Regions from separate parts of the Homo sapiens genome. Here all the other regions are linked to region 3. Evidence: fine-mapped expression QTL. A gene starts in region 3. Each other region holds a variant in brackets. All regions are shown on one strand. Distances are from middle to middle.

Region 1 (8,290 bases), 53 kb before region 3:
TAGCCGGGTATGGTGGTGTACATCTGTAATCCCAGCTACTTGGGAAGCTGAGGCAGGAGAATCTCTTGAACCCGGGAGGCGGAGCTTGCAGTGAGCCGAGATCATGCCATCACACTCCAGCCTGGGCCACAGGGCGAGACTCTGTCTCAAAAAAAAAAAAAAAAAAAAAAAAAGGACAGTTTGTTACTTTCTTTCAAGTGAGGGTACTTGAAATTATTTCTTTTTCTAAAGGTTTAATCTTCTAAGAATTAGGAAACTTCTGAGAGTATCTAAACATATAACAGTGAATTCGTTTTGTGAAGTTCATACCCCACCTCATTTATTTATTGTGTTCCTTTATATACTGAGCTTTCTTTCACAAAAGATTTTTCTTAAACAAAGGATATGCTAAGAATAGGAAGCTGACAATTGCTCCCATTATGCAAATGTGAGGAAAATTCCTCCTCTGCTGGGCGCTGTGGCTCACGCCTGTAATCCCAGCACTTTGGGAGGCGGAGGCGGGCAGATCACAAGGTCAGGAGTTTGAGACCAGCCTGACCAACATGGTGAAACCCCGTCTCTACTAAAATACAAAAACTACCCAGCGTTGGCTGGGCACGGTGGCTCACGCCTGTAATCCTAGCACTTTGGGAGGCCAAGGTGGGTGGATCACCTGAGGTCAGAAGTTCAAGACCAGCCTGGACAACATGGTGAAACCCCATCTCTACTAAAAATACAAAAAATTAGCCAGGCGTGGTGGCGGGCAACTGTAATCCCAGCTACTTGGGGGGCTGAGGCAGGAGAATCGCTTGAACCTGAGGGGCGGAGGTTGCAGTGAGCTGAGATCGCACCACTGCACTCCAGCCTGGGCCTGTGACAGTGAGACTCCGTCTCAAAAAAAAAAAAAAAAAAAAAATTACCCAGCGTGGTAGCGCATGCCTGTAATCCCAGCTACTCGGGGCTGAGGCAGGAGAATCGCTTGAACCTGGGAGGCGTAAGTTGCAGTGAGCCGAGATTGCGTCACTGCACTCCAGCCTGGTGACACAGCGAGACAGAAAAAAGAAAAATTCCTCCTCTGGGTCCTCACAAAGAGAACACTAAGATGCGATGCACAATGTCTTTAACGGTATTTCTGACACAAACACAATAAGCCTCTTGGGACTGAGGCTTGTCATTTTCTTAATATAAACTGAGGGTATTACACAAAGCCAGTTCATTAAATACAATTTGATGAAGGTCCAAGAAATGCACTCTGAGGATGCACAGGACCTTGTGGAGGTCCAGCTTAACCCAAGGGTAGAATTTAGATATTGAGAAGTATAAAAGAATTGTCTTCTTATGATTCAGCTTTTGATTAAAACAGGGCACTGGATAGTTTGAGATTAGATTGTCTAACAGCACGCGGAGTGTCCTTAGGGAAGATCCGTACAGTTAATGTGACAGTGTGACAGTCGAGGTAAGTTGATAGGTTCTTAAAATCATAGAAAGCACCTAACAAGGGCTCCTACATAATGTGGCAGCCCCACCACCATAGCAAGAAAGTCTACGCTAGTCTTCATTTTAAGAAATCACTATTATATGTTCACTGATGCCCCCCTCCCCTCTCAAATATAGCACAAAATTATATATACTCATCTGGAAATAAGATACTTATCTATTAAGATACTTTAAAAAATTAAATAATAAAGATTAACAAAGTTCTATAAGGGCCATTCAGTTGCAAATTTGAACTTTAGAACTCAGGTTTTCTAATTCCTCGCCCAGTGTTACTTGCACTGTTTAGGTCTTTTTATTGAAGTATGATACACCTACAGAAAAGTGGTAAATGTAAAGTAGATTTAGAGATTCAAGAAAGAAATTAAAAAGTGGTAAATGTCCAGCTCCATGAATTGTTACAAAGTCTCCAGATCAAGAAAGAGAACACTCCAAGTCTAATTCATAGAACTATGAAGTACAATGGTGACTGCCAGAGGTTGGGAGGCGGGGGCAGGAAGAATGGGGAGTTAGTGTTTAATGGATGCATTGTTTTCTTTGGGAAGATAAAAGAGTTCTGGAGCCGGATAGGGGTGATACAACAATGTGGATGGACTTAATGCCACTGACCTGTACACAGAAAAATGGTTGAAATGGTCAGTTTTTTGTATGTTTTGCCACAATAAAATAGAACATTCCCACACCGACAAAAGCTGCCCTTCTACTTCCAGCCACTACCCACTTCTACCTGCCCCCAGGATTGACCACTATCCTGACTCGGTTGAAAATTGTTTACACTAAAAGATGCTTAGCAATCCTACATTCTGACCCTTTAGTTTTATTACTTAGAGAAAAAAGCACAAGATTGTTTGCCTAAGATCATAGTTTGTGTCCCAGGTCAAAATGGATTGAATGGGAAATTAACTGTTTCTTGAACCTGTGGTAGATAACATGTCCATTTTATTTAGTGATAGCAACTAACAGATGTATAATTTATGCAGTTCTTGAACATGCCCTGCTGGGAGGCAGTGAGACGCTGGTATGTGAGTGTGGGCAGAGCAACAGGTAACTAGTGCACAAGGCCGGCAGCTCCAGTCCTCTCAGCCAGGTCGCCGAACCCTGTGCCTGGAGCACTTTGCCAGGCTGACGTTTTACACTAAGAAAAGCTTACTGGGCAGGTGCTGTGGCCCTCACCTGTAATCTCAGCACTTCGGGTGGCCAAGGCGGGCAGATCGCTTGAGCTGAGGAGTTTGAGATCAGCCTGGGCAACATCGTGAAACCCCATCTCTACAAAAAATACAAAAATTAGCCAGGTGTGTGGTGGGTGCCTATAGTCCCAGCTACCCAAGAGGCTGAGGTGGGAGGATGGCTTGAGCCCGGGAGGTGGAGGTTGCAGTAAGCTGAGATTGCGCCATTGCACTAAGCCTGGATGACAGAGCCAGACCCTGTCTCAAAGAAAAAAAAAGAAAAGAGAAAAGCTTAATGGCTTGTGTTTATTCACTTTTGTGTGTGTTTCTTCTTTTTTTTTTTTTTTTTTTTTTTTGAAACCAAGTCTCCAACTCTCCAACTGTCACCCAGGCTGGAGTGCAATGGTGCGATCATGGCTTACTACAGCCTCCACCTCCCGGGTTCCAGTGATTCTCCTGCCTCAGTGTCCCGAGTAGCTGGGATTACAGGCACACGCCACCCCATCGCTCCTAGGAGACAGAGGTTGCAGTGAGCCAAGATCGCACCACTGCACTCCAGAGCGAGACTGTCTCAAAAAAAAAAAAAAGTAGCCAGGCATGGTGGCATGTAGTTCCAGCTCCTCGGGAGGCTGAGGTAGAAGGATCTCTTGTGCCGAGGAGGTCAAGTCTGTTGTGGTTGTTCCACTCACTCCTGCCTGGGCGACAGAGCAATACCCTGGAGGGAAGAAAAAGCTTGTTTTGTTTGCCTCTGCAGTTTGTCACTAAAAATATTATTAAACATAATGTATGCATGCAAGTTACTGGGTTAAGTGTTAAAATTCTGGGTTGGTTTTTTTTCCTCTACATCCAGTCTCATGAGAAATTCTAAGAGTTCTAAGTTACATACTTGTCATTGCTAATGTGTCTTGAAATGAGCTGAAGGGGAATTGGCACCAAAATCAAGATTGAGTGTTAGCTAAATGATTAAGAAAGAATATACTGAGCTTAGAGTGCTTTGTGCTTTTATTTTAGAGCAGATACTGCTCCTTCTCTCCTGGCCAGGTTCAGTATTATTTCTTCCGTCCTAGCCAGCCTCACACCAACACTAAGCATTGCTTAAGTATTTGCCATGTTTAAGCTGGAAAGGAAATGTGTTTCTTCACCTTTGGAAAGATCGAGGTGCTAGTTTTCATTCTTGTTGATGGTGTTTAGTATTTGCTGCAGCTGTACACAAATTCCTCAAACTTCATGAGCATAAATTGTTTGCCTTTAGCTTTCTCAAGTTTGGAATCTGCTTCTTAGCCTCATTTCTCAACATTGAAATTTGTATAAACCTTAACAGCACCAGTCTGGAAGTCAGTTATACTCATTTAGTCAAACAGCCATTATTAAGAACCTATTATGTAGATGAATATGGTCTTTATCTTTGAGACTCAGTCTCACTCTGTCGCCCAGGCTGGAGTGCAGTGGCATGATCTCTGCTCACTACAACCTCCACCTCCAGGGCTTGAGCAATTCTCGTGCCTCAGCCTCCCGAGTAGCTGGGACTACAGGTGCATACCATAACGCCCAGCTAATTTTTGTATTTGTAGTAGAGATGGGGTTTTACCATGTTCCACAGGTTGGTCTCGAACTCCTGACCTCAGGTGATCTGCCCACCTTGGCCTCCCAAAGTGCTGGGATTACAAGCATGAGCCATCGCACCCGGCATGGTCTTTAAAGCTCCAATGAAAAATCATTTTTCTCTCTTACTTAGAATGGTACCAAACCACCACTGGATGCAGATGTAAATTTGGAAGCAATTGCTGGTGACCTTCGCTGTGATTGCTATACGTAAGTGTTTAAATCTTAAGTCAATTCACTCTCTGGGGTTCAATTTCCTCATCTATAAAATGAGGGGTGATGATGCTCACCTCAGCAGATTGTTGGGAGGATTAAATGAGGTATCCCATGAAGCACATAAAGTGTCTGGCATCTCCCTTCTTAGAGAAGAGACTGCACATTTGGAGGCCCTGAAGGAATTCCTGGGAACAGGGGAGTCCTTTCATATGTTGACTCTTGGTACTTAACCTACCCTAACCAGCACTGCTGTCCTTTACAAATTGTACTGGTGCGTCAGCATTTAAAAGAGACTAATCTACAAGTGCCACATTTTGCAGCCCTCAGGATGCATTTTCACCTCCACATAGCCTGTAGTAACATCAGGAAATCTGACATTTCTGCCTTCATCCTTCCTATGTTTGTGTTGTTACAGTTATTAGTTTTTCTTCATATGTTTTGAAGTAAATTTGTTTGTTAACTTTCCCAATTTGGGGACACAGAGGGAGGAAATGAAACTCAAGTTTAACTAACAGAGACAATGCCCCCTCCGGCTTTTTGTTTTCTTTTTTTTCTTTTTTTTTTTTCCATACAGGGTTTCCCTCTTTCACCCAGGCTGGAGTACAGTGGCATGATCATGGCTCACTGTAGCCTTGACTTCCTGGGCTCAAGCAATCCTCTGACCTCAGCCTCCTGGATAGCTGGGACTACAGGTGCATGCTACCATCCCCAGCTAATTTTTTTAAAAAATTTTTGTAGTTTTAGGGTCTCGCCATATTGCCCAGTCTTGTCATGAACTCCTGAGCTTAAGTAGTCCCTCATGCCTCAGCATCCCAAAGTGCTGGGATTACAGTGAGCCACCACACCCGGCCCTTTTTTTTTCTCTATTATGTCCTTCCAATGTAGCAGTGATTCTCAGTGAAGAGAAACTGATCAGAGTCTCAGGCAGGGGTGGTGAGGGGCAGATGTAAATGCCTCTACCTCCCCTTAAATAGGATGTGCCTCACCCCCTAATTAGGAATCAAATCCATACGAGTCTTTATTTAAATGATGTGGCCAGGCACAGTGGCTCACGCCTGTAATCCCAGCACTTTGGAGGCTGAGGTGG[G/T]CAGATCACTTGAGGTCAGAAATTTGAGACCAACCTGGCCAACATGGTGAAACCTTGTCTCTACTAAAACTACAAAAATTAGCCGGGCATGGTAGTGCACACCTGTAATCGCAGCTACTAGGGAGGCTGAGACAGGAAAATTGCTTGAACCCAGCGGGTGGAGGTTGCAGTGAGCTGAGATCGTGTCACTGCACTCCAGGCTGGGCAACAGAGCGACACTCCATCTCAAAAAATAAAAATAAATAAAATTAAAAATAAAGAAATGGCCTTATGCTTAGGAGACTACTACTTGAGTAGTTTACTGCTTTAAGGGTGGGAGCAGTGGCTCACACCTGTAATCCTAGCCCTTTGGGAGGCCAAGGCAGGCAGATTGTTTGAGGCCAGGAGTTCAAGACCAGCTTGGGCAACATAGTAAGACCCCATCTCTACAAAAAAAATAATAATAATACAGCTTTAAGTGCTCAAATCTGAAAAGATTTTCGGTGAGTAACAGGTGATTTTGGTGGCGGAACTTGCCCTGGGCTAAATCTTTTGGATATACCAAGTAGGCTATCAGTCTGTGAAGGGGTTAGGGCTAAAGTTGAATGGTGTACATTTTGGATTTTCATGCCACTATAATTACAGTTTGAGAGACACTACACCACTACAGTCTATAGCTATCTGCTTGTGTTAGTTAATGGTGTTTCCACCAATGTTAGATTTCATAGTATGGGAAGGAATGAATACCCCAGCAGGTATGTGATTATTAAATAATGTTATAACCCTAACATTTAGCCAACAAAACACCAGATTCAGTTAAAAATTTAAGCTCTGTGGGTCTTTACTTTTATATAGTATGTGTCTGAGGCAGGAGAATCACTCATACCCAGGACGCAGAGGTTGCGGTGAGCCAAGATCACACCACTGCACTCCAGCCTCGGTGACAGAGCAAGACTCCATCTCAAAAAAAAAAAAGTTATATAGTATGGGGATTATCAACATTATATAATAAGTTTAATGTCCAGAGATGAGGTTTTTTAAAAAAATTTATTTTTCATTTTCATCTTTTCTTTCCAAGACTTGTGAATCATAGAAGTGATGTTTTTATCCCCAAACTCAAACTCTTTCTCATATAATCTCTAAGAACCCTGTTACAGCTGTAATGTAGTGAAACTCCAGTCAACATGAGTGTCTTTCATTGAACTCAGAACTGTGCTGACTCAGCATATTATTACATGAACTAATTAAATAAGTGAAGGCCTGTTTTGTATTTGTCATATTTTAAGTAACTTATGATGTGTTCATTCAGTTTTAACTTGAATCAGGTGCATTAAAGACTTTCCAGGGTTTGTATTTTTCCCTTCTGAACTTGGAGCCACAAGTGACTTTTTGGGGGGTTTTCTTGAGACAGGGTCTCACTCTGTCACCCAGGCTCACTATAGCCTTTGCCCCCCAGGCTCAAGCAATTCTGCCATCTCAGCCTCCCAAAGTGCTGGAATTACAGGCATGACCCACTGCGCCCAGCCCATAAATGACTTTTTAATAAGCTTACTTTAGACATTATGTAATACATGAATATGCTAGTCAGCACTTTAGCCCTTTATGCATTGTATTGTTTCCTCCATAATTTCCTTTCTTCTTGAGTTTAGTTTTTTTTTGTTTTTGTTTTTTAATTGGGACAGAGTCTCACTCTGTTACCCAGGCTGGAGTGCAGTGGTGCGATCTTGGCTCATTGCAACCGCCACCTCCCGGGCTCAAGTGATCCTCCCACCTAAGCCTCCCCAGTGCCTGGGACTACAGGTGCATGCCACCATGCCCAGCTAATTTTTTTGTAGTTTTGTAGATATGGCATTTCTCCATATTGCTGAGACTAGTCTCAAACTCCTGTTCAAGTGATCCACCCACCTCGGCCTCCCAAAGTGCTGGGATTATAGGCGTGAGCCACTGCACCTGGCCTAGAAATATCTTATATAAAAGCTAAGAGCTCTTTTCTATTGATTGATAATCAATTTATTTCTCATCTTTATTGGTCACTTTTTCTCCTGATTATTTAATATATGACTTATATGAAAACTGTTTTCCGGGTTTTTTTCTGGGATTTTGCAGTATCTAAGAATAAGTAGATAACTATTATTTTATTGTAGGGGCGCAGATCTCTCTGCTTTGGTACGAGAAGCTTCTATCTGTGCCCTGAGACAGGAAATGGCAAGACAGAAGAGTGGAAATGAAAAAGGTACAATTCTCTCCAGAATCTCTCAATTCTAATTATGATACTTAAAACCACTGTTGCCCTGGAAAATGACCATTTTCTAGTGTCTATTATCTATGATATTAAAGCTAACGTTTTTCTAATAAGACTGTTAGAAGCTGTTCTGAAATATTAGGTAACCTCTGTTGCTGACAATTATAATAATAGCAAAGTTATTTAGTACCTCTCTAATAAAGAGTACTGTCCCTATAGGCAAATGGATCCATTCGCTGTCTTCATCATGAGTCTGGGCTGCTTATCAATTCTGGAAAAACGTATTCTTTTGCTAAGGTGATATCTACTTGCCTGTTAAAATGCAGCCTAAATTGGAGAGCTTAGAAAATACACAAGAGAAGTGAAATTTGGAATAACTTTCCATATGTTGAGACTTTCCTTTCAAAATATAAAATCTGTGTATTGTGTTATGTGATGCTTTGGGGCCATCTCAAAAGCTTTGCACCATCCTTCACATTTGACAGTGTCTTTAATGTTATTATTTGAGTGCATATGGGGGAAAAA
Region 2 (8,290 bases), 43 kb before region 3:
TTTTTTGAGACAGAGTCTCGCTCTGTCACCCAGTCTGGAGTGTAGTGGCATGATCTTGGCTCACTGCAACCTCTGCCTCCTGGGTTCAAGCGATTCTTCTGTCTCAGCCTCCTGAGTAGCTGGGACTATAGGTGCGCACCACCATGCCTGGCTAATTTTTTGTATTTTTAGTAGAGACAGGGTTTCACCATATTGGTGAGGCTGGTCTCAAACTCTTGACCTCGTGATCCACCCGCCTTGGCCTCCCAAAGTGCTGGGATTACAGGCGTGAGCCACTGCGCCCAGCCCACAATCTCAGAATTTTAATCATCTGATTCAAGTATTATTTGACCTACTCTACGCTTTTTGATAAATGGCTTTGTATTTCTTGGAGCTAGACTGTACCCAAACTAAGCCATAGGGACTTACCCATACATTTCAGGGAAATAAAAACATCTTCACCATAGGTGGGAGAAGGGTTAAAAAAAAATCACTCTGGAGCTGGGCACAGGGGCTTATGCCTGTTATCTCAGCTACTCAGGAGGCAGAGGTGGGAGAATGGCTTGAGCCCAGGAGTTCAAGATCAGCCTGGGCAACATGGTGAGACCCTGTCTCTACAAAAAAATTAAAACTTAGCCAGGCATGGTGTCATGCACCTGTAGTCCCAGCTACTTAGGAGACCGAGGCAGAAGGATTACTTGAGCCCAGGAGGTTGAGGCTACACTGAGCCATGATCACACCATTGTACTCCAGCCTCGGTTACAGAACGAAACCTTGTCTCAAAAACAAACAAATAAACACAGAAGAAAAAACACACTTCAAGTATTTCTTTGGGATGAATACACAGGAGTGGAATTGCCACCCAACATTTAAAATGTTAATTTGCCAGACGCGGTGGCTCACTTCTGTAATCCCAGCACTTTGGGAGGCTGAGGCGGGCAGATCACGAAGTCAGGAGTTCAAGACCAGCCTGGCCAATATAGTGAAATCTCATCTCTACTAAAAATACAAAAATTAGCTGGGCGCGCACCTGTAGTCCCAGCTACTGCGCACCTGTAGTCCCAGCTACTCAGGAGGCTGAAGCAGAAGAATCGCTTGAACCTGGGAGGCAGAGGTTGCAGTGAGCCAAGATTGCACCACTGCACTCCAGCCTGGGCGACAGATTGAGACTCCGTCTCAAAAAAAAAAATTTTTTTTTAATTTGACCACAGTGAGATTCTACTACACACCTACCACAATGACTAAAATTTAAAATATTGGCAACACTAAATGGTGGCAAGGATATGAAACAGCTGGAACTCTTTTTATTTATTTATTTATTTATTTATTTTTTTGAGACAGAGTTTCACTCTTGTTGCCCAGGCTGGAATGCAATGGCACAATCGCAGCTCACCACAACCTCTGCCTCCTGAGTTCAAGCTATTCTCCTGCTTCAGCCTCCCGAGTAGCTGGGATTACAGGCATGTGCCACCACACCCGGCTAATTTTTTGTATTTTTAGTAGAGACAGGGTTTCTCCATGTTGGTCAGCCTGGTCTCCAACTCCCAACCTCAGGTGATTGGCCCGCCTCAGCCTCCCAAAGTGCTGGGTTACAGGCCTGAGCCACCACGCCTGGCCTGGAACTCTTATACATTGTTGCTGAAAATGTAGATACAACCACACTGGAAAACATTCTGGCAATTTCTTTTTTTTTTTTTTTTTTTTTTGAGACGGAGTCTCGCTCTGTCGCAATGGCGCGATCTCGGCTCACTGCAAGCTCCGCCTCCCAGGTTCACACCATTCTCCTGCCTCAGCCTCCCGAGTAGCTGGGACTACAGGCGCCCGCCACCATGCCCAGCTAATTTTTTTGTATTTTTGTAGAGACAGGGTTTCACCATGTTAGCCAGGATGGTCTCGATCTCCTGACCTCGTGATCCACCCATCTCAGCCTCCCAAAGTGCTGGGATTACAGGTGTGAGCCACCGCGCCCGGCCCATTCTGGCAGTTTCTTATGAATGTTAATGTAGTGTAAGAAGCTTCTACTTTCCCGGCCTGGCGCAGTGGCTCACACCTGTAATCCCAGCACTTTGAGAGGCCGAGGCGGGTGGATCATGAGGTCAGGAGTTTGAGACCATCCTGGCCAACATGGTGAAACCCCATCTCTACTAAAATGCAAAAAATTTGCCGGGCGTAGTGGTGCGCACCTGTAGTTCCAGCTACTCAGGAGGCCGAGGCAGGGGAATCCCTTGAACCCAGGAGGCAGAGATTGCAGTGAGCCGAGATTGCACCGCTGCATTCCAGCCTGGGCGACAGAGTGAGACTCCGTTTCAAAAAACAAAAAAAGAAGCTTCTGCCTTTGCCTCCTTTCCATCTGGATTCAGTGTAGTTTAGAATTGTGCTTTCTTCACTAATTAGATAGACATAAGACTCTTGACCTGATTTTTTAGGAAAACTTGAGTCAACGATTGTGAATGTCATGGAGTCCCCTGTGGAAAGGAGCATGTGTAGGATTTAGATTAGGATTTAGATGCAGGAAGGTAAAATATCACCTCTCTTCAACAGTAAGTTAGTCAGCAGGAGCTACTATGACAAAGTACCACAGACTGGGTGGCTTAAAAAGTGGAAAATTTATTTTCTCACAGTTCTGGAGAGTGTTGGGCAGGATTGGTTCTTCTGGAGCCTTTGTCCTCACTGATGGCTGTCTTCTCCCAGCGCCTGCATGTGCTTTTCCCTCTGCGCACATGCTCTTCCCTCCTGTGCCCTAATCCCCTCTTTTTGTAAGGAGAGCAGTCATATTGGATAAGAGTCTACCTGTATGACCTCATTTTAATCCAGTCTCCTCTA[T/C]AAAGACCCTCTCTCCAGTTACAATCACATTCTGAGGTCCTGCGGGTGCGGACTGCAGCATGTGAATTTTGGGGGGCACCATTCAGCCCAAAACAAGCAGTGACGGTCTCTGTATTCTGTGTTCTCCCTCCTTTCAGGATCAAATCATGTATGAACGTTTGCAGGAGTCCCTCAGCCGGTGATGTCTCCAGCAGCCGGCTTAGAGGAGCTAGCCCATCAAGCCGGCAGAGAATCCCCCACACGCTCTGAAGGACCCACTTTCAGCTGGACACAGGCGCGGCCTCATGTAAACATTTTATTTTCAAATGAATGAGGCCAAGCTGAAGCTGAAGCTGAAGATTCTTCCCATCTGGCCAGCCTTGTGTGAAAATGCCTTCTTCCTCTTTAAGAAAAAGGACAATTTTTAAACTGCTGAAATAAAATGACTGTTACATTTTTCAAATAAAACTTTTACTTTGAACTATTTTGACTATACAGAAAAGTTACAGAGATCTCCTCCCCCGCCTTCCACAACCATCTAGGAATAAGTGCCAACCTGATGCCCTATCACTCCCAAATACTGTCATGTGTATTTTCTACACTTGAAGATATTCTCCTACATAACCCACCATCAAAGTCAGGGAATTAATACATTGATACATCACTGCCATCTAATCCTCCTCCATTCACGTTCCTCTAGTTGTCCTGATAATGTCCTTTAAAACAGGTCCCTAACCCCCAGGTTGGAGACAGGTACCTATCTGTCTCCTGTTAGGAACCAGGACGCACAGTGGGAGGTTAGTGGTGGGCGAGCGAGCATTACTGCCTTAGCTCCACCTCCTGTTAGATCAGTGGCAGCATTAGACTTTCATAGAAGCGTGAACCCTGTTGTGAACTGTGCACTTGAGGGACCTAGGTTGTACCCTCCTTATGAGAATCTGATGCCTGATGATCTGAGGTGGAACAGTTTCTTCCTGAAACCACCTCCCCTGACCCTGTCTGTGGAAAAATTATCTTCCACGAAACCAGTGCCTGAGCCTAAAAGGTTGGGGACCACTGCTTTAAAAGGAGGCCACTGCAGTTAGTTGCTACATTCTTTAATCTCTTTTAAGCGTGGAACATTTCTTCAGGTTTGACTTTTGACACTTGTGAAGGTTTCAGGCCAGTTACTTTGTAAAATTCCTTGAGTGTGGATGTGTCTGATGTTTTCCTTGTGATTAGACTCAAGTTATGCATCTTTGGCAGATTACAAAGTGACACTGTGCGCTTGTCATGTGGCATGCGATTTCAGTTTGTCCTGTTACTCATGATGTTCACTGTGATCACTTGAGGTAGTTCTTCCAGGTTTCTCACACTACAAAGTTACTCTTTACTCTTTTTTTTTCACTTTGTAATGTATGTGTATTTTATGGGAAGTTACTTTGAAACTCTATAAAGTCCATTCCTCATCAAAGTCAAGTATTACTATTTTTAATATATTATCCATTATTATCATTATGATATTCAAACTGTCCCAGATTTGACTCTCCTTTGGCCTCTATATGTTTGATGAGTCCCTAGGCAATACTTTGTGAAGGGCTTGATTTTTGTTGTGTTCAACTCATAATTTACAGTGTTGCTCACAATATATCCGGAAGTTATATATAGATGGGTCGGGTTACCTACTTTTCTTTCTTCTTAAATTTTTACTTCACCTCATTCTACAAAAATTTTTAGGCTACTTTTAAGAATGTGGACCAGTCACAGTGGCACATGCCTGTAATCCTAGCATGTTTGGGAGGCCTAAGTGGGAGGATCACTTGAGTTCAGGAGTTCGAGAGCAGCCTGGGCAACATAGTGAGACCCCCCACATCTCTACAAAAAGAAAAAAAAATGTTACAAGGCCAGGCGTGGTGGCTTATGCCTGTAATCCCAGCACTAGGCCAAGGCGGGCAGATCGCCTGAGGTCGGGAGTTCTTGACCAACCTGGCCAACATGGTGAAACCCCGTCTCTACTAAAAATATGAAAATTAGCCGGGCGTGGTGGCAGGCACCTGTAATCCCAGCTACTCAGGAAGCTGAGGCAGGAGAATCGCATGAACCCGGAGGCGGAGGTTGCAGTGAGCCAAGATCGCACCACTGCACTCCAGCCTAGGCAACAGAGTGAGACTCTGTCTCAAAAAAAAAAAAAATTTACAAAAAGAATGTGGTGAAAAAATGTTACTAAAAGCAAATCAGGGTTACAAAGGTCAATAAAACAGTCTTTTTTTTTTTCTTTTTTTGAGACGGAGTCTTGCTGTGTTGCCCAGGCTGGAGTGCAGTGGTGCAATCTCGGCTCACTGCAACCTCCACCTCCCGGGTTCCTGCCATTCTCCTGCCTCAGCCTCCCAAGTAGCTGGGACTACAGGTGCCTGCCACCACGCCCGGCTAATTTTTTGTATTTTTAGTAGAGACGGGGTTTCACCGTGTTAGCCAGGATGGTCTCGATCTCCTGACCTTGTTATCCTTCCACCTTGGCCTCCCAAAGTGCTGGGATTACAGGCGTGAGTCACTGTGCCCAGCCAACACAGTCGTTTTTCTGAGGAGTTCGCAGAAGGATTCAGACATCTCAGCAGAGTATGACCATGCCCAGTGAAAGGGCATGAAGAAGAGGGTACCTTAGGACACCAGAAGAGGGAACACCAAAAAAGAAAAAAAAAGGCAAATCAGGATCACATACTAAAGGTAGGTGATTAAGAATGAAGGGAAGCCGGGTGCGGTGGCTCACGCCTGTAATTCCAACATTTTGGGAAGCCAAGGCGGGCGGATCACGAGGTCAAGAGATCAAGACCATCCTGATCAATATGGTGAAACCCCGTCTCTACTAAAAATACAAAAATTAGCTGGGTGTGGTGGCATGGCCTGTAGTCCCAGCTACTCGGGAGGCTGAGGCAAGAGAATTGCTTGAACTCAGGAGGCAGAGGTTGCAGTGAGCCGAGATCGTGCCACTGCACTCCAACCTGGTGACAGAGTGAGACTCTGTCTCAAAAAAAAAAAAAAAAGAATGAAGGGAAAATTGGAATATGCACCAGAAGGTCTTAAATTTGAGGAGCAGATTCAACTCTGCTTGACATCCACCCAATCCTGAGAAACACAGTCAGGTATATCATAGATGTGGGTTATGAGAAAAAGCAAAAATCTTCTTGACTATTAAATGTTAGGTCTAAGTATCCAACTTGCTGGTAGTTTAGCTTAACCTCGACATAAAATGTAGAACGCATAAGAGAGCAGACTGGCTGCGTGTTCGTTGGCTTTGCCAGTCAGGTATGGTACATGTTGAACAGCAGGCAGATACTGCGACAGGTAGTGTGACAGTGGATGTTGCCAGCACTTCTGCAAATGGAAGGGAAGATCATATTTTTCAGCATGATCTGTGTACTACACACTGCCAAATGTTATCTTAACGCTCCCAACTCATACTAGGGATCAAATAGAGTTATCCCCATATCATCAAAAAGAACAAGGTTCAGAGCCTGTTCAAGGGGACTCGCGGAACAGTCTGAATTCTGGTCTACAGCGGTCTAACTTTTCTTTCTCTTGTGAAAAAGATCCAGTCCTCTGTTCAGAAACTCCCGGAATTATGTCCTCTGTTCTAGCACTGTCAAAGATTTAGCCATTTCATTAAACACTTTGTACTGAGCATTACTAACATAATGGTGAACAAACTCAGAACTTAATGCCCAGTGTGGTGTGTGTGGCAGAGAGCTTATCGCCCTATAATGTCCATTCTTTTCTTCTACCTTTTAGTAAGAAGGGCTCTTGCTGCCAGGAAAGTGACTAACAAACATCTGGCTAGTATAATATAAACAGAAGCGATGGGAACAGCTTCTGGTTACATCCTTATAAGGAAGTGACTTGGGTTGCATTAACCCATCATTAACTCAGGGCAGCCTACATTGAACTCAACACACCTTCTCCCAGAAGCAAAGACCCTGGCTATGTCCTTGAAAAGTCATAACTTGTTTAAAAAAGAAGGTGCTACCTGTCATTTTAACTCCATGCTGCCCTTCCCGGGACTAGAGAGTGATGAGCTGATGATGAACCTGTTTTGGCCTTGTAAATGGAGACAACATCCTAGGGAATGACAAAGTAATAAAACACAAGAAACCAGGATCGTGGGCAACCCTTGCAGCAGAGTTTCCTCAACCCTCAGATGGTCATTTGCCTCACTTGTGTGTGTGATCTTTATATTGCTTAAGCTATTTATATTTTGGTCTGTGTGAAAGGAGCCAAATTCATATCCAACTTAATACAGATAAAGAGACAGTCACAAAACAGTGTGAGAAGGGCTGAAAAGGGATAAGAATAGTCACCAAGCGAAGAGCACAGGGTAGGAGCAGCTAGTCCATAATTGGAATTGGAAGGTTCTCCCAAGAATGCAATGTGTCAGCGGAATCCTGAAGGCAAAGAAGATGAAGGAAGGAGGTAAATGACCTGAGCAGAGAACAAAGGCCTGGATAAGGGAGGGGCTGGTGTCAGTGGGAAGAAGCAGGTGGTCTCTCATGTTTGTATGTAGGTTATTGCTGAAAACATGTCCAAGTAGTATTTACTGGAAGATCTTATTTCCAAAAGGTAAAAATGTTGTAAAATGCCTTATTACCCTAAAAAGTATAAGTAGATATAACTTAGGTAAAAGTATAGTATTCTATACTTTGTATCTGTCACTATTCTAGATCTCACTGTTTGAACTCAGGAACTGAACAGATTTGGATACATTTTTTGGACAAATCCCTCACTATTTGAAATTGCACTACTCACCTTCCAAAGCTGAGAAGCCAAATAGATTTGGGTGAGATGGTATTGCTCATGATTCAGACTCTAACCTTATCACTTTTGCTTTGGATTATGAGACTTACGCTTATCACTATTATCAGCATTTGTTTTTCTTTTTCTTTCTTTTTTTTTGGTGACGGAGTCTCCCTCTGTTGCCCAGGCTGGAGTGTAGTGGCATGATCTCGGCACACTGCAACCTCTGCCTCCCAGGTTCAAGGGATTCTCCTGCCTCAGCCTCCCGAGTAGCTAGGATTGCAGCCGCGTGCCACCACACCCGGCTGATTTTTGTATTTTTAGTAGAGACGAGGTTTCACCATGTTGACCAGGCAGATCTTGAACTCCTGGACTTAAGTGATCCACCCACCTCAGCCTCTCAAAGTGCTGGGATTACAGGCGTGAGCACCTGTGCCTGGCCAAGGGCAAGGATTCTGTCAGTCAGTGTCTCTGTAGCACCCAGCCCGGATTCTGGCATGCAGGAAGCATTGAATAAAGTGAAGTGAATGAACTGTTCTTCAACAACATGTTTGTCCAAATTAGACTGCTGGGGCACAGCTCCTCCAGGTGAGAATTTTTAATGTTTGCTCACCAGGTAATAGAAGTTTGACTTTGTCATATGAACCAGACACAGTGGCTCATGCCTGTAATCCCAATGCTTTGGGAGGCCGAGGCAGGCAAATCACCTGAGGTCAGGAGTTTGAGACTAGCCTGGTCAACATGA
Region 3 (8,290 bases):
AAAATACTGAACTGTACACTTTAAATGAATAAATCATGATAGTTGAATTATAATCTCAATAAAGCTATTGGCCAGGTGCTGTGGCTCACACCATTAATCCAGCACTTTGGGAGGCTGAGGCACAAAGACTGCCTGAGGCCCAGTGTTCAAGACCAGCCTGGGCAAACAGATTCTATTTCTACCAAAAATAAAAAAAATTAGCCAGGTGAGGTGGCACAAGCCTGTAGTCCCAGCTACTTAGGATGCTGAAGCGGGAGCATCACTTGAGCCCAAGAATTTATGATCACACCACTGCACTCCAGCCTGGGCAACACAGTGAGACTCTCTCTCAAAAAATAAAACATTAAAAAGCTGTATCATGTTAAAGTATAACAGTGAAGGAACCATTTCTTGTGATTTATTCTTTTTTTTTTTTGAGACGGAGTCTCGCTCTGTTGCCCAGGCTGGAGTGCAATGGTGAGATCTCAGCTCACTGCACCCTCTGCCTCCTGGGTTCAAGCAATTCTCCTGCCTCAGCCTTCCCAGTAGCTGGGATTACAGGCGCCCACCACCACACCCAGCTAATTTTTGTATTTTTAGTAGAGACGGGGTTTCACCATGTTGGCCAGACTGGTCTTGAACTCCTGACCTCAGGTGACCTGTCCACCTCAGCCACCCAAGGGCTGGGATTACAGCCATGAGCCACCCAGCCCAGCTCATCCTCACGAATTTCAAACAGATGCCTTGTAAATGAACTTTTAATGTGAACTCTAAATGTAAACTTAAAGTGTACAATTGTTGGTTGTTCTATCAGGCCCCTTCCCTCCCCCGCCAAAAAGTCAATACTTTCAGAAAGATCTCTTATCATTTGTGTATAATTTAAACAAATCTAAAGATTCTTTCTACAGGTTATTCCATCTCCCACCCTGAAACAGAACATGAGTTAGTATTTACACCTGCATGGAAAACATTGTACACTGTATTTTCATTGAGAAATATGTAGTCCTTCTTTTTTTTTTTTTTTTTTTTTTGAGACGGAGGCTCACTCTGTCGCCCAGGCTGGAGTGCAGTGGCACCATCTCAGCTCACTGCAAGCTCTGCCTCCCGGGTTCACGCCATTCTCCTGCCTCGGCCTCCTGAGTAGTTGGGACTACAGGTGGCTGCCGCCACGCCCGGCTAATTTTTTGTATTTTTAGTAGAGATGGGGTTTCACCGTGTTAGCCAGGATGGTCTCGATCTCCTGACCTCATGATCCGCCCACCTTAGCCTCCTAAAGTGCTGGGATTACAGGCGTGAGCCACCATGCCCGGCCAAGAAATATGTGGTCCTTTTACTTTCCCAGTGAAATGGTTCAGTGATAAGTCTGTGGGGGGAAAAAAGGCTCAGTGTGAGGTAAGTATCAATCAGCACCTTCTCACTTCCTTCATCTCTTTTTCTTGAGACAGTCTCACTCTGTTGCCCAGGCTGGAACGCGGTGGGGCAATCACGGCTCACTGCAGCCTCTACCTCCCCAGCTCAAGCAATCCTCCCACCTCAGCCTTCTGTGTAGCTGGGACCACAGGCACATGCCACCATGTCCCGCTAATTAAATTTTTTTTTTTTTGGTAGAGATGGGGTTTTGCCATGTTGCCCAGGTTGGCCTCGAACTCCTGAGTTCAAGTGTTCCTCTCGCCTCAGCCTTCTGAGTAGCGGGACAGGCATGCACGCCTAGCTAATTTTTTAATTTCTCGTGCAGATGGGGCTGTTCTGAACTGGCCTCAAGCGATCTTCTTGCCTCAGCTTCTCAAAGTGCTCGGATTACAGGCAAAAAAAAGCCACCACACCCGTCCTGATTTTCAGAATATTAAGTAGCTCAGTTTCAGTATTCCAGAGTTGGTTTTTACACAGGTAGGACGCTAGATTATTCCTATGTAACATGTAGATAAGGCATTGATAAAATATATCATATGTGGCCTGGCAGGGTGGCTCACGCCTGTAATCCCAGGACTTTGGGAGGCCATGGCAGGCGCATCATCTGAGACCAGCCTGGCCAATGTGGCAAAACCCTGTCTCTACTAAAAATAAAAATAGAAAAACTTAGCCAGGTATGGTGGCGGGCGTCTGTAATCCCAGGTACTCGGGAGACTGGGGCAGGCAGAACTGCTTGAACCCAGGAGGGAGAGGTTGCAGTGAGCCGAGACTGGGCCACTGCACTCCAGCCTGGGTGACAGAGTGCGGCTCCGTCTCAAAAAAGTATCATGCTATCTCATATCAAGTATGTGTAAGTGATGTGCCAAACAAATTGCTACTGGCAGGCTGAGGTATGCGGACCACTGGAGCCCAGGCTGCAGTGATCATCATGCCTGTGAACAACCACCGCACTCCAGCTTGGGCAACAAAGCAAGACCCTTTCTCTAATGGAGTGTAGGGGAGGAGGAAGAAGAGGAGGAAGGGAATTCAAGAACCCAAAGTTACCGGGTGCAGTGGCTTACGCCTTTAAAATCCCAGCACTTTGGGAGGCCAAAGCGGACAGATTGCTTGAGCCCAGGAGTTCAAGACCAGCCTGGGCAACACGGAGAAACCCATCTCTACAAAAAATAGAAAAATCAACCAGGCATGGTGGTGTGCGCTTGTGGTCCCAGCTACTTGCTTTTTCTTTTCACTGGGCAAATGAATGTTGAGAAGAAAAACTAAGGAAATACTATATATAAGGAATAATTGCTCATGTTCAACTCACCGTTTCCTCAATTTAAAAAAAGTGTGTGTGTGTGTGTGTGTGTGTGTGTGTGTGTGTAAACGGGGGGCTCTCACTATGTTACTCAGGATGGTCTCAAACTTCTGGGCTGAAGCGATCCTCCCGCCTCAGCCTCCCGAAGTGCTAGGATTACAGGCCTGAGCTACCGTGACCGGTCCCCGTTTCCTCAACAGAGGTTAAAAAGCTCGTGCTCTGGCCGGGCACGGTGGTTCACGCCTGTAATCCCAAAACTTCGGGAGGCCAAGGCGGGCGGATCACCTGAGGTCAGGAGTTCGAGATAAGCCTGGCCAACATGGTGAAACCCCGTCTCTAACTAAAAAAGATACAAACATTAGCCAGGCGTAGTGGTGGGAACCTGTAATCCCAGCTACTCGGGAGGCTGAGACAGAAGAATCGCTTGAACCCAGGAGGCAGAGGTTGCAGCGAGTGGAGATCGCGCCACTGCACTCCAGCATGAGCAACAGAGTGAGACTCAGTCTCAAAAAACAAACAAACAAACAAACAAAAAACAAACACGTGCAGTCTCAAAAAACAAACAAACAAAAAACAAACACGTGCTCTGGAAGAGGCAACCGAATGCGCATTAGAATCCCCCTAGCATTTAGTCACGCGTTCTTATTTCATTTTTTAAAACAGCGATAATACCAACCAAGTAGAATTACCAAGAGGATGAAATTGGGTAATGTTTGTAAAGCATTCCACACAATCCCTAGCATATTAGGAGTAGCCTGGGAGAGATGAGCATTCTCTATGTAACACAGAAGGCCCGAATCCTCTGGAGAGTTAAGGCCTCTCAATTAGCTGTCAGGGGACCAGCAGGCCACGCCACATATTTTCCTTATTTGGCAAGTCTTCCATTTTCAGTCTTTTCATCCACAAAACCGAGATGGATGAAAAATGCCTACGAATCCGCCGTTCTTACGTCCCAGGCTTGTCGTGAGGATCAATGGGACAAGCGGCGTGAACCGACCAGGGCCCATCAAGTCCGAGAAGCCCCGGGGGGCATATGGAGGGACGCCGGCCCCCTTAACGGGCCCAAGGCCGGGACTGCGGCCGCCCCCGCCAGTACTGCCCGCCGGCGCCCGACACCCTGAGCAGGGCTCGCTGGTAGGCCCAAGGATGCCCAGGACCACACCCTGCCTAGCACTCAGGCAGCCCCAAGGCCGGCACCCGCTCACCTCGGCCCGCTCCGGAGGAGAGGGAGTGGTGAGAGGAAAGGGCGCCCACCTGAGGGCACAGGAATCTTCTAGCGAAAAGATCTACTCAAGGCTGGCACAGCCGGGGACACCCTTCGCCCCAACCGGCCGGCGTGGGCCTGGCGGGGACTCCCGCGCTCGGGGACGCGCCTGCGCCTCTTCGCGGAAGGGTCGGAGCTGCGCGGCTCCGAGGACCCGTCCCTCCCCCCGCTCCTCGCCCAGCCTCTCCCGCGCTGACCCGCGGGCTGGCGGCCCGAGCGGCGACGGGACGCGACGGGGAGCAGGCTGCTAACGGGCCTCCGGCGCCCACGACCGCGCAGGGCCCGCGAGGGGAGAGCGCGCCCCGGCGCCGGGAGGCCACGCACGCACATAACGGGGCGCCCGCTGGCCCTCACCCAGGATCTCCCGGCGCCGGTCGGCGTGCGGCTGGTCGGTGTAGACCCACTCGAAGTCTTCCCGCGAGACGCGGCTCCCCATGGCGACAGCGGTGGCTTGCAGACTAGCTGTCGGCTCTCGCTCCCAGCCGGCTGCTCAGAGGTGGCGGCGGCGGCGGCGGCTCCCCGGCTGGTGTGGTGTCGGCCGGCTGTGGCGGAGCGCGGAGGAGACGGAGGCGTGGGCGGAGTCCCGAGGCCCCGCCCCCCCCGGCCCGCCCGCCTGCCTCTCTGGGTGGAGGGCGCGTGGCGCTCCCAGGCCCCCGTGCGGGGCCGGCTCTCAGCGATTCTGGGACGCGGGGTTCTGAGCTTCGGTGACTCGGCCACCATCCAGGATGCCGCGTTCTTGCGAGTGCCCGCCCCTGCGGCCTGCTGCGCCGGAGCCCGGAGAAGATGAAAAAGGAAGGAATGGTCTCAAGTGAGATAAACCTGCCGCCCTAACGCCTCCGCGAGGGGAGCACCGGGCACGGCTACGGTCACACCGAGTCTGGAGGCCCCGGAGCCCTTCTTAAATGGCAGCTGGCCTAAGTTTTGTTTAATTTTTAAAAAGCAAATTAGCCATTGAGTCATATTTCGCTGCCTTCTGGAAATAATACCTCAGGGAAAAAATGCAGAGTGCGTGACAATTAAAAGCTAATCAAGTAAAAAGAAAACACCATTATTAAGAGGGGGTGATGATGTGGGATTTGTTGTTGTGCTTGAATTATTCTAGTGTGACCACTTCTGTTAAGAGATGATTGCTCAACCTTGCATCTACCTGTCGCAGAAGTAATCAACCACAACCTCTTCCTGAAAGAAAGGTTTTGAAACGAAACTAATTTTGTTTCAACATTAGTTACCACGTCTACATCAAAGAGCAACTTAAAGATTACAAAAAGAAGATAACCAAAGCAGGTGTGCCTCCTAGTCAAAGAACATGCTGTGCACGCGCACACGGCACACACACACACACAAATCTGATCGAGCCCCTAGATCTGACTGTTAATTTATAGAAAATAGAAAGGACATTTGGCCGGGTGCGGTGGCTCACGTCTGTAATCCTTGCACTCTGTGAGGCAGAGGCGGGTCCATCACCTGAGGTCGGGAGTTCGAGACCAGCCTGATCAGGATGGTGAAACCCCCGTCTCTACTAAAAATATAAAAAAATTAGCTGGGCGTAGTGGCAGGCGCCTGTAATCCCAGCTACTCAGGAGGCTGAGGCAGGGGAATCGCTCGAACTGGGAGGCAGAGGTTGCAGTGAGCTGAGACGGAGCCACTGCACTCCAGCCTGGGGGACAGACGGAGACTCCCTCTCAAGAAAAAAAAAAGAAAATAGAAAGGACAGAGGAATGTGTTAAACTAGGCCGTGGGGATGAAACTAGCAAGATCCAACTCTGGGAGACTATATGGGACAATGTCTGGGTTCTCTAATAAATGAAACTCAAGGCAAAAAAAGAGAAACCTGTAGATTAAAAGGAGTTTAAAAGACATACCAACCAATTGCAACGTGTTGACCTCATTTAGATTCTGATTGAAATAGTTTAAAAACATTGACATGAAATAATTGAACTCAGATATCAATTGGATATGTGATGATATTAAGGAATTATGAATTTCTTAAGTGTGATAATAGTATTATGGTTATAGTGGGTTTTGTTTTTTTTGAGACAGAGTCCTGCTCTGTTGCCCAGGCTGGAGTGCAGTGGTGGCCTCATGTCTCACTTCAGTCTTGACCTGAGCTTAAGCCATCCTCCCACCCCAGTCTCCCGAGGAGCTGGGATCACAGGCGTGCACCACCATGCTTGGCTACTTTTTTGAATTTTTGATAGAGATGGGGCCTCACCTTGTTGCCCAGGCTGGTCTCAAACGCTTGGGCTCAAGTGATCTCAAAGTATTGGGATCACAGGCATGAGCTACTACATCCGACCCCAGGAGCATTATTAATAAGTCCCTAAGACCCTCTCAGTACATTCACTTCTGAAATAGAGAGGGCCAGCACGGCTGAGACATCTAGCAGAGAAGGCTGTGAGAGCAGAGGGGAGACAGAACAGTGACACCTGGAGTGGAGGCCTGAAGGCTGATCAGAGCCCAGCGAGGGTCATGTCTGCAGGGCATGCTAGCAAATGCGTGGCTGGGTCAGCCTCCAGAGGGTCCCAGTCTCGAAAAAGGAGTGGGATTTGATGATGGATAGATACACAGGTCTGATCATGCAGGAGCTTTTTAGTTGTTAATGAAATGGTGGAGGAAAAAGAAGGTGGGGAGTGTCACCTGGAAAAGGACAGCTTTGTATTTGCCAAGTTTCATCTGGATTGGCAGATGGCACATGAAGCTGATAATTGGACTCAACTCAGGAGGAAGTTTTCAGGTGCTGACAAGTAAATGTATCCCTGCAGTTCAGAACGCAGTTGCTATCACAGGCATGTGTGAACTGGCACACCAGTCCAAAAGGTGTGCGGAGGCTTACGTCTGTAGTCTGAGCACTTTGGGAGGCCGAGGTAGGGGGATCGCTTGAGGGCAGGGGTTCGGGACAAGCCTGGGCAACATGGCAAAAACCCACCTCTATAAAAAATACAAAAATTATGCCGGGTATGGTGGCTCATGCCTGTAATCCCAGCACTTTGGGAGGCCAAGGCGGTCTCCAAGGTCAGGAGATCCAGACCATCCTGGCTAACACGGTGAAACCCCATCTCTACTAAAAATACAAAAAAAATTAGCCAGGCATGGTGGGGGGGGCGCCTGTAGCCCCAGCTACTTGGGGGGCTGAGGAAGGAGAATGGCATGAAACCGGGAGGCGGAGCTTGCAGTGAGCCGAGATCGCACCACTGCACTCCAGACTGGGCGACAGAGCAAGACTCCGTCTCAAAAAAAAAAAAAAAAAATTTAACTGGGCGTGGTGGCCCATGTTTGTGGTCCCACCTATTGCTGAGGCTGAGGTGGGAAGATTGCTTGAGCCCAGGAGGTCGAGGCTTCAATGAGCTGAGAAATGAGCTGAGATTGTGGCACTGCACTCTAGCCTGTGTGACAGAGTGAGGCTTTGTCTCAAAAACATTAAAAAATAAAAGAAAGAAAGAAAAATGCAGAGTTTGAAAAAAAATGTGAATCTGGATATACCATTTTTTTTTTCTGAGATGGAGTTGCGCTCTGTTGCCCAGGCTGGAGTGCAGTGTCAAGATCTTGGCTCACTGCAACCTCTGCCTCCTGGGTTCAAGCGATTCTCCTGCCTCACCCTCCCGAGTAGCTGGGATTACAGGTGTGTGCCACCACGTCCAGCAACTTTTTGTATTTTTACTAGAGACGGGGTTTCACCATGTTGGCCAGGCTGGTCTTGAACTCCTGACCTTAAGTGATCTGCCCTTCTTGGCTTCCCAAAGTGCTGGGATTACAGGCATGAGCACCACACCTGGCTTGGACATTCTTTTTTTTTAAAAAAAGTTACAATTCATTTAATAGCAACTGGTAATCATGAAATTTTCTTATTTTGTTTAAACCCTCTTTAAACAAAAGTCTGCAAATTAGCACTGATCATTTGCAAAAGTCATTACATATACTGCCATTTTTCTTAAGGTTGACCAAAGATAACCTAGAATTATAGCCGTTACATAATCACACAAAATGATTATATATTAATCAGACCTGGTTTATCACCAGCATTTATAAAAACAGACGTAGGGAAAGAACTAGGTCTAGGGACACGTACATGGTCTTAATATAGCGACTGTTTATCCTGTCCTGACTATTACAAAATCAATTTTGACATTCTAAAGTAAACTATTTGAGCTACAGGATTGTCATGGGCATTGATAGCTATTTTAATGATGTCTAGGCATGCTTCTTTAATTTGGACTTTTAAAAGTTCTTAATATATACGCGTAATAAAAAAGTAAGCTAAGAAGTATAGCCAGGCATGGTGGCTCACGCCTGTAATTCCAGCACTTTGGGAGGCCGAGGTGGGTGGATCACAAGGTCAGGAG

Evidence for each region. PIP is the estimated chance that this variant, and not a neighbour inherited with it, causes the effect.
Region 1: its variant is the best candidate, but not a certain one, in a credible set for the expression of DEGS1 in whole blood (Lepik 2017, PIP 0.79).
Region 2: its variant is the best candidate, but not a certain one, in a credible set for the expression of DEGS1 in monocytes (Fairfax 2014, PIP 0.70).

What each region holds. Positions count from the first base shown.
Region 1 is chr1:224,232,667-224,240,956 of GRCh38, reverse strand. It overlaps NVL (nuclear VCP like), which reads left to right. Exons shown (of 23, transcript NM_002533.4): 20 at 4,375-4,451; 21 at 7,668-7,756. Among named protein-coding and RNA genes, the nearest start is that of MIR320B2, 20 kb to the left of the region's middle. The variant G/T (reference allele first, on the strand shown) is at 5,545.
Region 2 is chr1:224,222,320-224,230,609 of GRCh38, reverse strand. NVL (nuclear VCP like) reads left to right here. Exons shown (of 23, transcript NM_002533.4): 23 at 2,940-3,265. The coding sequence ends at 2,984. It overlaps LOC101927164 (a long non-coding RNA gene), which reads right to left. Exons shown (of 3, transcript NR_110668.1): 2 at 6,782-7,196; 3 at 2,567-3,184. Among named protein-coding and RNA genes, the nearest start is that of MIR320B2, 31 kb to the left of the region's middle. The variant T/C (reference allele first, on the strand shown) is at 2,803.
Region 3 is chr1:224,179,433-224,187,722 of GRCh38, reverse strand. DEGS1 (delta 4-desaturase, sphingolipid 1) reads right to left here and starts at 4,483. Exons shown (of 3, transcript NM_003676.4): 1 at 4,305-4,483. The coding sequence starts at 4,386. LOC124900425 (small nucleolar RNA SNORA72) reads right to left here and starts at 8,082; the gene lies at 7,956-8,082. RefSeq lists enhancers at 1,010-1,559, 2,111-2,170, 3,644-4,473, 4,808-4,897, 4,474-5,304 and 1 more and silencers at 2,142-2,436, 3,738-3,817, 3,978-4,357, 4,458-4,657.